Regions from separate parts of the Homo sapiens genome. Here region 1 is linked to region 2. A link means that fine-mapping ties the variant in region 2 to the expression of a gene that starts in the linked region. Tissue or cell type: lung. Region 2 holds a variant in brackets; the other region holds the start of a gene. All regions are shown on one strand. Distances are between the middles of the regions.

What was found. PIP is the estimated chance that this variant, and not a neighbour inherited with it, causes the effect.
Region 1: it holds the start of TBCE, and the variant in region 2 is fine-mapped to the expression of TBCE in lung (TOPMed, PIP 0.99).

What each region holds. Positions count from the first base shown.
Region 1 is chr1:235,365,698-235,369,859 of GRCh38, forward strand. TBCE (tubulin folding cofactor E) reads left to right here and starts at 1,730. Exons shown (of 17, transcript NM_003193.5): 1 at 1,730-1,807. LOC124904559 (a long non-coding RNA gene) reads right to left here and starts at 1,723. Exons shown (of 2, transcript XR_007066957.1): 1 at 1,513-1,723; 2 at 656-926. RefSeq lists enhancers at 1,437-2,150, 1,690-2,029.
Region 2 is chr1:235,432,332-235,436,493 of GRCh38, forward strand. TBCE (tubulin folding cofactor E) reads left to right here. Exons shown (of 17, transcript NM_003193.5): 8 at 1,873-1,949; 9 at 3,414-3,509; 10 at 4,055-4,119. It also overlaps the pseudogene RPS21P1. Among named protein-coding and RNA genes, the nearest start is that of TBCE, 67 kb to the left of the region's middle. The variant T/G (reference allele first, on the strand shown) is at 1,606.

The sequences.
Region 1 (4,162 bases), 67 kb before region 2:
CCAACTCAACGTCCTGAGTAGCTGGGACTACAGGCACCTACCACCACGCCTGGCTAATTTTTGTGTTTTTTTAGAGACAGGGTTTCGCCACATTGCCCAGGCTAGTTTTGAACTCTTGAGCTCAAGTGATCTGCTTGCCTCGGCCTCCCAAAATGCTGGGATTATAGGTGTGAGCCACCGTGCCCTGCTGAGGAGAGTCTTAGTTTGGGATCCATGGATTCCTTTGAGGCCTATTCATGGGCTTCAAAGGATTAATCAGTCCTTGAAATCATACGCAAAATTTGTGTGTAGGTAGATAGCTTTTATCAGATTTCCAATGTGGTTTTTAATCCCCTCTTCCAAAGAAAAAACAATCACTGTAATATCTAGTTTCTAGTTTCAAGGAGTGAACTATCAAAGTATAAAACAGTAGAGACATCCAGCAGGATACTGACTGTTTGTGTCCATTTAATATGACAATTAGAAGGTCACTTCTTGGAAGAGTCATTTGGCTTTGCTCCCTCAATTTCCTTTCCACTTCACCTCACTTCAGTCTGGTTTTGGAATGCTAACACTCACTCTACCCAAACTGCTCTTGTTGTGGAGTCTGTGGTATCCACCAATGGGTTCTTTCTGCCTGCTGCACAAACAAAATTAATTGACAGAAACCATGGCATTGCAGTAAAGAAAGTTTAATTGACGCGAGGCTGGCCATGCCACGTGGGAGACAGAGTTGTTACTCAAATCCATCTCACCAAAGGCTCAGAGGTTAGGGGGTTTTTCAGATAGTTTGACAGGTACGGGGCCAGGGAATGGGGAGTGCTGACTGGTTGGGTCAGAGGTGAAATCATAAGAAGTAGAAGCTGTCCTCTTGCACTGAGTTGGTTCGTGGATCCCCAGGTTGATGAGTCAGGGTGGGGCCATCCACTTGTCAGAAATGCAAAAACCTGAAAAGACATCTCAAAAGGCCAATCTTAGGTTCTACAACAGTGATGTTATCTGCAGGAATGATTGGGGAAGATGCGAATTTGTGACCTGTGGAATAATGGGTGGTAATCATTTAACTACAATTACAACTTAGAAGAATTCAGGACCCTCTCATTCTCCTAACTTGGTGGCCTTTCATTTAGTTTTAAAAGGGCAGTTTTGGGGAAGGGTTATTATCATTTAAACTATAAACTAAATTTCTCCCAAAGTTAGTTTGTCCTGTGCCCAGGAATGAGCAAAGACAGCCAGTCTGTGAGGCTAGAATCAAGATAGGAGTAAACCATGTCAGATTTCTCTTACTGTCAAAATTTTGCAAAGGCGGTTTCAACAGAAATTAACATGTCTAGGATAGTTGCTTTTTCTATTATTTTTTCTATCACTGCATTTACTTTCATTCTGCCTTATGCTTTAACTAGGTAATTTTTTTTTTTTTTTTAGTTTTGGCGGTATCAACACTATATTCTTCTCTTTGACCACCGCATGCTGCCTACGTGGTAGACTCTCAATACGCATGGAACTGAACCTCTTACAGGATTTGTAACTCACTTCTGTGGTATCTAGTAAACTGGAACACGCGCTTTCCCTGGGCTGCTCTGTCATCCCAGGTTTCAGCACTCGGAAATCGCTTGGGCCCCCGCCCAGAGGCGGGGCTTGGGTGGGCTGACCACTCCTCTGGCCTCCAATACTGTCGCTGACATTCTCGTCTATGCTCCAGCAGCCGTACCTCACTCCGGTGGAGGCGGGACTTCCTACAGCACTTCCGGCCAGAGCCTCAAGCTTCGCTGCTGGGCAGTTGGCTGGAGGGGCTGCTGCTGGGAACACCTGGAGTCTCCGCGGGCAGGTGAGCTTCAGAGGTTCGGGGAGCTTTCGGAACGAGCATTCCTGGCCGGTGCGTCACCCTGCAGTGCTCTTGGCCTTTTCTTCCTTTCCTGGAATCTTCCCAGATTGCCAGAGCCGGGCGTTGCCTGCTCCGTGCGCTGGGAGGCGGTCCAGCCGGCTGGGTTGGGGCCACCCTGCGCCTCCTGGAAGGCCTTATTTAGGAGTAGCCGCACGTGATCTCTAGCATTTTAAGCTTCTCTCAGAGAATTGGCATGTCACTTTGGAAGAGGTGAAAATGGTACAGGCGACCAACGACTTTTACAAGGTGTCACCTTAGAGGAACAGCCTCGTCCTTCCGAATCAGTTAACATTGGTGATGACAGAGAAATAACGTTAAATAGGTGGAGAGCACTTAAAGTAACTGTTTGTTCTTTTGAGACAGTCTTGCTCTGTCGCCCAGGCTGGACTGCAGTGGCGCGGATCTCTGATCTCGGCTTACTGCAACCTCCGCCTCCTGGGTTCAAGCGATTCTGCTGCCTCAGCCTCCCGAGTAGCTGGGATTACAGGCGCGTGCCACCACGCTCGGCTAATTTTTGTATTTTTAGTAGAGACAGGGTTTCTCCATGTTGGCCAGGCTGCTCTCGAACTCCTGATCTCAGATGATCCACCCGCCTCGGCCTCCCAAACTGCTGGGATTACAGGCGTGAGCCACCGCGCCCGGCCTAAAGTAACTATTTTTACTTGGTGTTTACTACCAAATGGGGACTGTTCTAAGTTGTGGGTGGATCCAAATGATGGTGTGACAGCCTTATCCTCAGAGAAGCAGTCCTGGCAGGAAGACGGGGTTAACAAATTGCCAAACTGTTAGAGAAAGTTAGTGGAGGTAGAGATGAAGAGAGAAGACTTTTCTTTTCTCTGGCATTAATTTAGCCACGGCCGCTGTGTTTTGATACTTGCTTCAAACGTTTTTCATATTCTTAAGTTTTAACTTTTCTGTATGCTCATATTTTATATACTGTTGTAAACAGCATATCTCTGGGTTTTTTTTTTAATCTAAGTGGACAGCCTGCTTTTTTTTTTTTTTTTTTTTTTTGATATGGAGTCTTGCTCTGTCGCCCAAGGCTGGTGTGCAGTGGCCCAATCTCAGCTCACTGCAACCACGCCTCCCAGGTTCAAGCATATCTCCCACCTCAGCCTCCCGAGTAGTTGGGATGACAGGTGTGTGCCACCATGCCCAGCTAATTTTTTTTTTTTTGTATTTGTAGTAGAGATGGGGTTTCGCCATGTTGGCCAGACTGGTTTTGAAGGCCTGACTTCAGGTGATCCACCTGCTTCAGCCTCCCAAAGTGCTGGGGCTACAGGTGTGAGCCACCGTGCCCAGCCCAGTCTGCCTTTTGACTAGCAGGTTTATTGGATTTACATTCATTGTCACTACTGAAATATTTGTCTAGATGAAAATCTTTGGTATCATCCCTGATTAATCTCTTCCATATATATCAGCAAATCCTATGGACTCTCCACCTTTAAAATCTGTCCACACTCCCAGGCTCTTGTTATCACCTTCACTTGTTCAAGTTACGTTGTCTCGTACTTGAATTACTGCAGTAGTTTCTGCTCTTTCCTCTTTTAGTCTGTTTGCATCACAGTATCTCGGTTGATCCTTTAAAAAAAAATCAGATTTATGTCTTTCCTCTCAAAAATCCTCCAAGGACTACACATTTCACCTGGAGTGAAAGCCAAAGTCGGCCGGGCGTGGTGGCTCATGCCTGTAATCCCAGCACTTTGGGAGGCCGAGGTGGGTGGATCACGAGGTCAAGAGGTCGAGACCATCCTGGCCAACATGGTGAAACCCCGTCTCTACTAAAAATACAAAAATTAGCCGGGCGTGGTGGTGCGTGCCTGTAATCTCAGCTACTCAGGAGGCTGAGGCAGAAGAATCGCTTGAACCCGGGAGACAGAGGATGCAGTGAGCCGAGATCGTGCCACTGCACTCCAGCCTGGCGATAGAGCAAGACTCTGTCTCAAAAAAAACAACAAAAACAAAAAAAACAAAAACTGGCTGGGCGCAGTGGCTCAAGCCTGTAATCCTGGCACTTTGGGAGGCCAAGACTGGTGGATCACCTGAGGTCAAGTGTTCAAGACCAGCCTGGCCAAAGTGGCGAAACCCCGTCTCTACTAAAAAAAAACACAAAAAATTACCCAGGTGTGGTGGTGTGTGTCTGCAATCCCAGCTATTAGGGAGGCTGAGGCAGGAGAATTGCTTGAACCTGGGGGCAGGCGCGGAGGTTGCAGTGAGCCGAGATTGTGCCATTGCACTCCAGTCTGGGCAACAAGGGCAAAACTCTGTCTCAAAAAAAAAAAAAAAGCCGAAGTCTTC
Region 2 (4,162 bases):
TGTTCACCCAGGAAGTGCCACAGAGGCCACTCAGTGAGAGACAGGTGGGCCCCTTGTGCCCTTAATATGCCCGTGGCCATGGAGCCTCTTTCCTAGGGCCCCTCCTCTGTGAGGCGCTTACTCCCTCTCAAGGTGTAGATGTAGCTGGAAGACAAGAAGGGGCCAGACACTGGCACTGGGGCTCACACCTGCAATCCCAGCGCTTTGGGAGGCTGAGGTGGGAGGATCACTTGAGCCCAGGAGTTTGAGGCTGCAGTGAGCTAGGATTGCACCTTTGCACTCCAGCCTGGGTGACAGAGCAAGACGCATCTCACCCTCCAAATAAACTAGGAAGGGCACACAGAAATTGAAGTGGTGGAGATGGCAGTAAAGTTCCAGTGAGAAAATTTAGAAATAGTTGGTGAGGCTGGTCATGGTGGCTCTCGCCTATAATTCCAGCCAGCACTTTGAGAGGCCCAGGCAGGAGAATCACTTGAGGCCAGGAGTTCAAGACCCACCTAGGCAACATAGAGAGATCCTGTAGATGCTATATATATATTATATATTATTATACATAATTATATAATATATAATAATTTTTTGTAATTTTTTTTTTTGTAAAAAAAAAAAATTAGGCTCATGCGCAGTGTGGTGGCAGCAGGCACGGTCTCGACATGCAGAAAGACGCCAGCAAGTTCGTGGATCTGTGCGTGCTGCAGAAATGCTCCACCAGCAACTGCATCATCAGTGCCAAGGACCACACATCCATGCGGATGAACGTGGCCAAGGCCAGTGAGGTCACGGGCAGGTTTAACAGCCAGTTTAAAACCTGTGCTATCTGCAGGACTGTTTGCAGGATGGGTGAGTCAGATGATTCCATTCTCTAATTGGCCATGGCCAAGGGCGTCATCTCAACTATTTGGTTTTTGAGATGGAGTCTTGCTCTGTTGCCTAGGCTGGAGTGCAGTGGTGTGATATTGGCTCACTGCAACCTCTGCCTCCTGGGCCAAAATGATTCTCCTGCGTCAGCCTCCCAAGTAGCTGGGATTACAGACGTGCACTACCACGCCTGGCTAATTTTTTGTATTTTTAGTAGAGATGGGTTTTCACCACGTTGGCCAGGCTGTTCTCAAACTCCCGACCTCAAGCATTCTGTCTGCCTCAGCCTCCCAAAGTGCTGGGATTACAGGCGTGTGCAACCATACCCGGCCATTTTTGTATTTTTAGTGGTAATGGGTTTCATCATGTTGGCCAGGCTGGTCTCCAACTCCTGACCTCAAGTGATCCACCTGCCTTGGCCTCCCAAAGTGCTGGGATTACAGGCATGAACTCACTGTGCCCGATCTCAAAGAACTTTTGATTGGAGAGAATCATGGATGTAGAATATTTGTCATAAATATATAATGAAAACTTTAAAAAATGTATAATTAAAAAAATAATGAAAGAAGAAATAATTGTTGAGAAATTTATGAAAGGATATGAAAAATTAGCATATCCTTTACAAACCCAGATTGGCATTTAGAATTGAGGAAAGGTGTGTAACATCAATTTACTTATTTTGGTTAAGCAAATTCTATCAAATAATAATATGTGCAGTTAGTATCTCCTGTTCCACCTCGTAGCTGC[T/G]TTACCTAAACCATGCATTGACACGTACCTCCAAGGCCTCAAAGTGCCCACAGTGTGTGCTCCCACAGCATTAAAATGCACCCCCTTAACATTTTATTTATCACCCCCCACCACTATTCCAGGCCTGAAACAGTCTTATGAACTGTCCGTGAGGCACTTGTTTGCTGAAACAGTAACTGAGCTGAATTCTTGTGGTGGTTCCTATGAACACCCGGGAAGAAACAGCCAGCAGAGGCCGCCTGAGCCTGAACCGAGTTTCTCTTCCAGGTGCTGCGGTGTGTCGCGGGGTGCCCAGGCCTGGAGGAACTCTACCTTGAGTCTAACAACATTTTCATTTCCGAAAGGTAACTAGCACTTACTTAAATGCATCTATCCCCATTTAATCATCATTCTGAGTAAATAAATGGTCTCAATTATATCTAACCTTAATTTTTAGAAGGATTTGCAAACAAGAATTAGGAAAAATGCTTATTATTCATTGCCTTCACAAATTAGAATTTCACTAATTGGTTCTAATCAAAGGAAACTCATCAGAATTAAATATTTGTGAAGACATGAGTTATATTAGTTTTGCATCAGTGTATTAACTTGCTGTTTCTTTTTTTTCTTTTTCTTTTTTTGAGACAGAGTCTCACTCTGTCGCCCAGGCTGGAGTGCAGTGGCGATCTTGGCTCACTGTAACCTCCGCCTCCTGAGTTCAAGCGATTCTTCTGCCTCAGCCTCCCGAGTAGCTGGGATTATAGGTGCCTGCCACCATGCCCGGCTAATTTTCTTTATTTTTAGTAGAGACGGGGTTTCACCATCTTTTACGGGGTTTCACCATCTTGGCCAGGCTGGTCTCGAACTCCTGACCTTGTGAGCCACTGTGCCTGGCCAACTTGCTGTTTCTAAATGGAAGTTCTGTAGGATATGCTATAAGGATTAAATAATGTATTTTTCATTAGCATCATCTGTTTAAGGTCATTGTACCAAAGTACATGTAAAACTTTGTTCTCTGAAATATATTGTTGCCTCATCTCCTTTTTAAATTAATAATATTAAATTACTATGTAAAATTAACCTAACTGTGGGAAAATTTACAACAGATTCTGAATTAAAGGATTCAGAATCTTAAAGATTTTCGTTTACAGAAGGGTTTCATTATGTAGGCAAATGCAGGTTTTTTGTTTTGTTTTTTTTTTGAGATAGAGTTTCATTCTTGTCACCCAGGCTAGAGTGCAATGGCACCATCTCGGCTCACTGCAACCTCCACCTCCCTGGTTCAAGTGATTCTCCTGCCTCAGCCTCCCATGTAGCTGGGACTACAGGCACGTGCCACCATGCCTGGCTAATTTTTGTATTTTTAGTAGAGACGGGGTTTCACCATGTTGGCCCGGCTGGTCTTGAACTCCTGACCTCAGATGATCCACCCGCCTCGGCCTCCCGAAGTGCTGGGATTACAGGTGTGAGCCACCGTGCCTGGCCTGCAGGTTTTTTAAATTAAATTTTTTTATTTTGAGATAATCATATATTCACATGAAGTTTTATAAGAAATGATACACAGAGATCACTTGTACCCATGACCCAGGTTCCCCCATTGGTAACAAGTTGCAAAACTATGATATAGGATCACAGGCTAGGTGTGACACTGATACCGGCAGGAATATGTGCATCACCACAGGGACCACTCAGGTTGCCCCTTTACAGTCATATTTACTTGCTTCTTATCCCCAGCCCTCCATCGCACCAAATGCAGGGATTTTAAGGCTGTATCTTTGAAAACAATTAAGAGATAAATTCACGGTGAAAAAATTTTATTTTCCATACAGGCCAACAGATGTTCTCCAGACAGTCAAGTTATTAGATCTTTCCTCTAATCAATTAATTGATGAAAATCAGCTGTATCTGATAGCCCACCTGCCCAGGTAATTTGCCCCTAAATGCCTGATACAATAGTGTTCAGTCAATTCTTAGTGAAGCAGTTTTCATATGCTATGTATGCTTTCTCAATAGAAACGTGGTAACAATGATGGAATTTCTAAATTGAGTAATTCCCTTTGGGAAATTTTCATTTGAATTCATTTAGAAAATTTACTTGTGAACCCTGTATAATGTGGACTATGTCTGTACCAGATAATTTGAAGAATGAATAATTTGACCCTGGTGATAATGCGGAAAGTCTTCATTCATTAAACTCCGGGCAGTAGACCGTGTCTCTTTCCTCTGAGACGCATTTAGCACCTGACATAGCAGTAGGTACTCAAGAACCATTAGGTGACTATGGAGTCATTAGAATACAGGATAAAGAGTTCACTTTGCATGTCCTAAGTTGGACTTTATGGTTTCTAAGTATTTTACATGGGATTAAAAACCCAGGGTGTAGGAAAAAAATTTACAAACCGAGTCTGGTTGATACCCCATAGCATTTTACATTGTTCTGTGTAATCAAATTGTACATTTTGAATTTCAGGTTAGAACAATTAATCCTCTCTGACACTGGAATTTCTTCTCTACATTTTCCGGATGCTGGAATTGGTATATAAGATTAGTAAAGTTCCCCACTGCCCCCCCACACTAT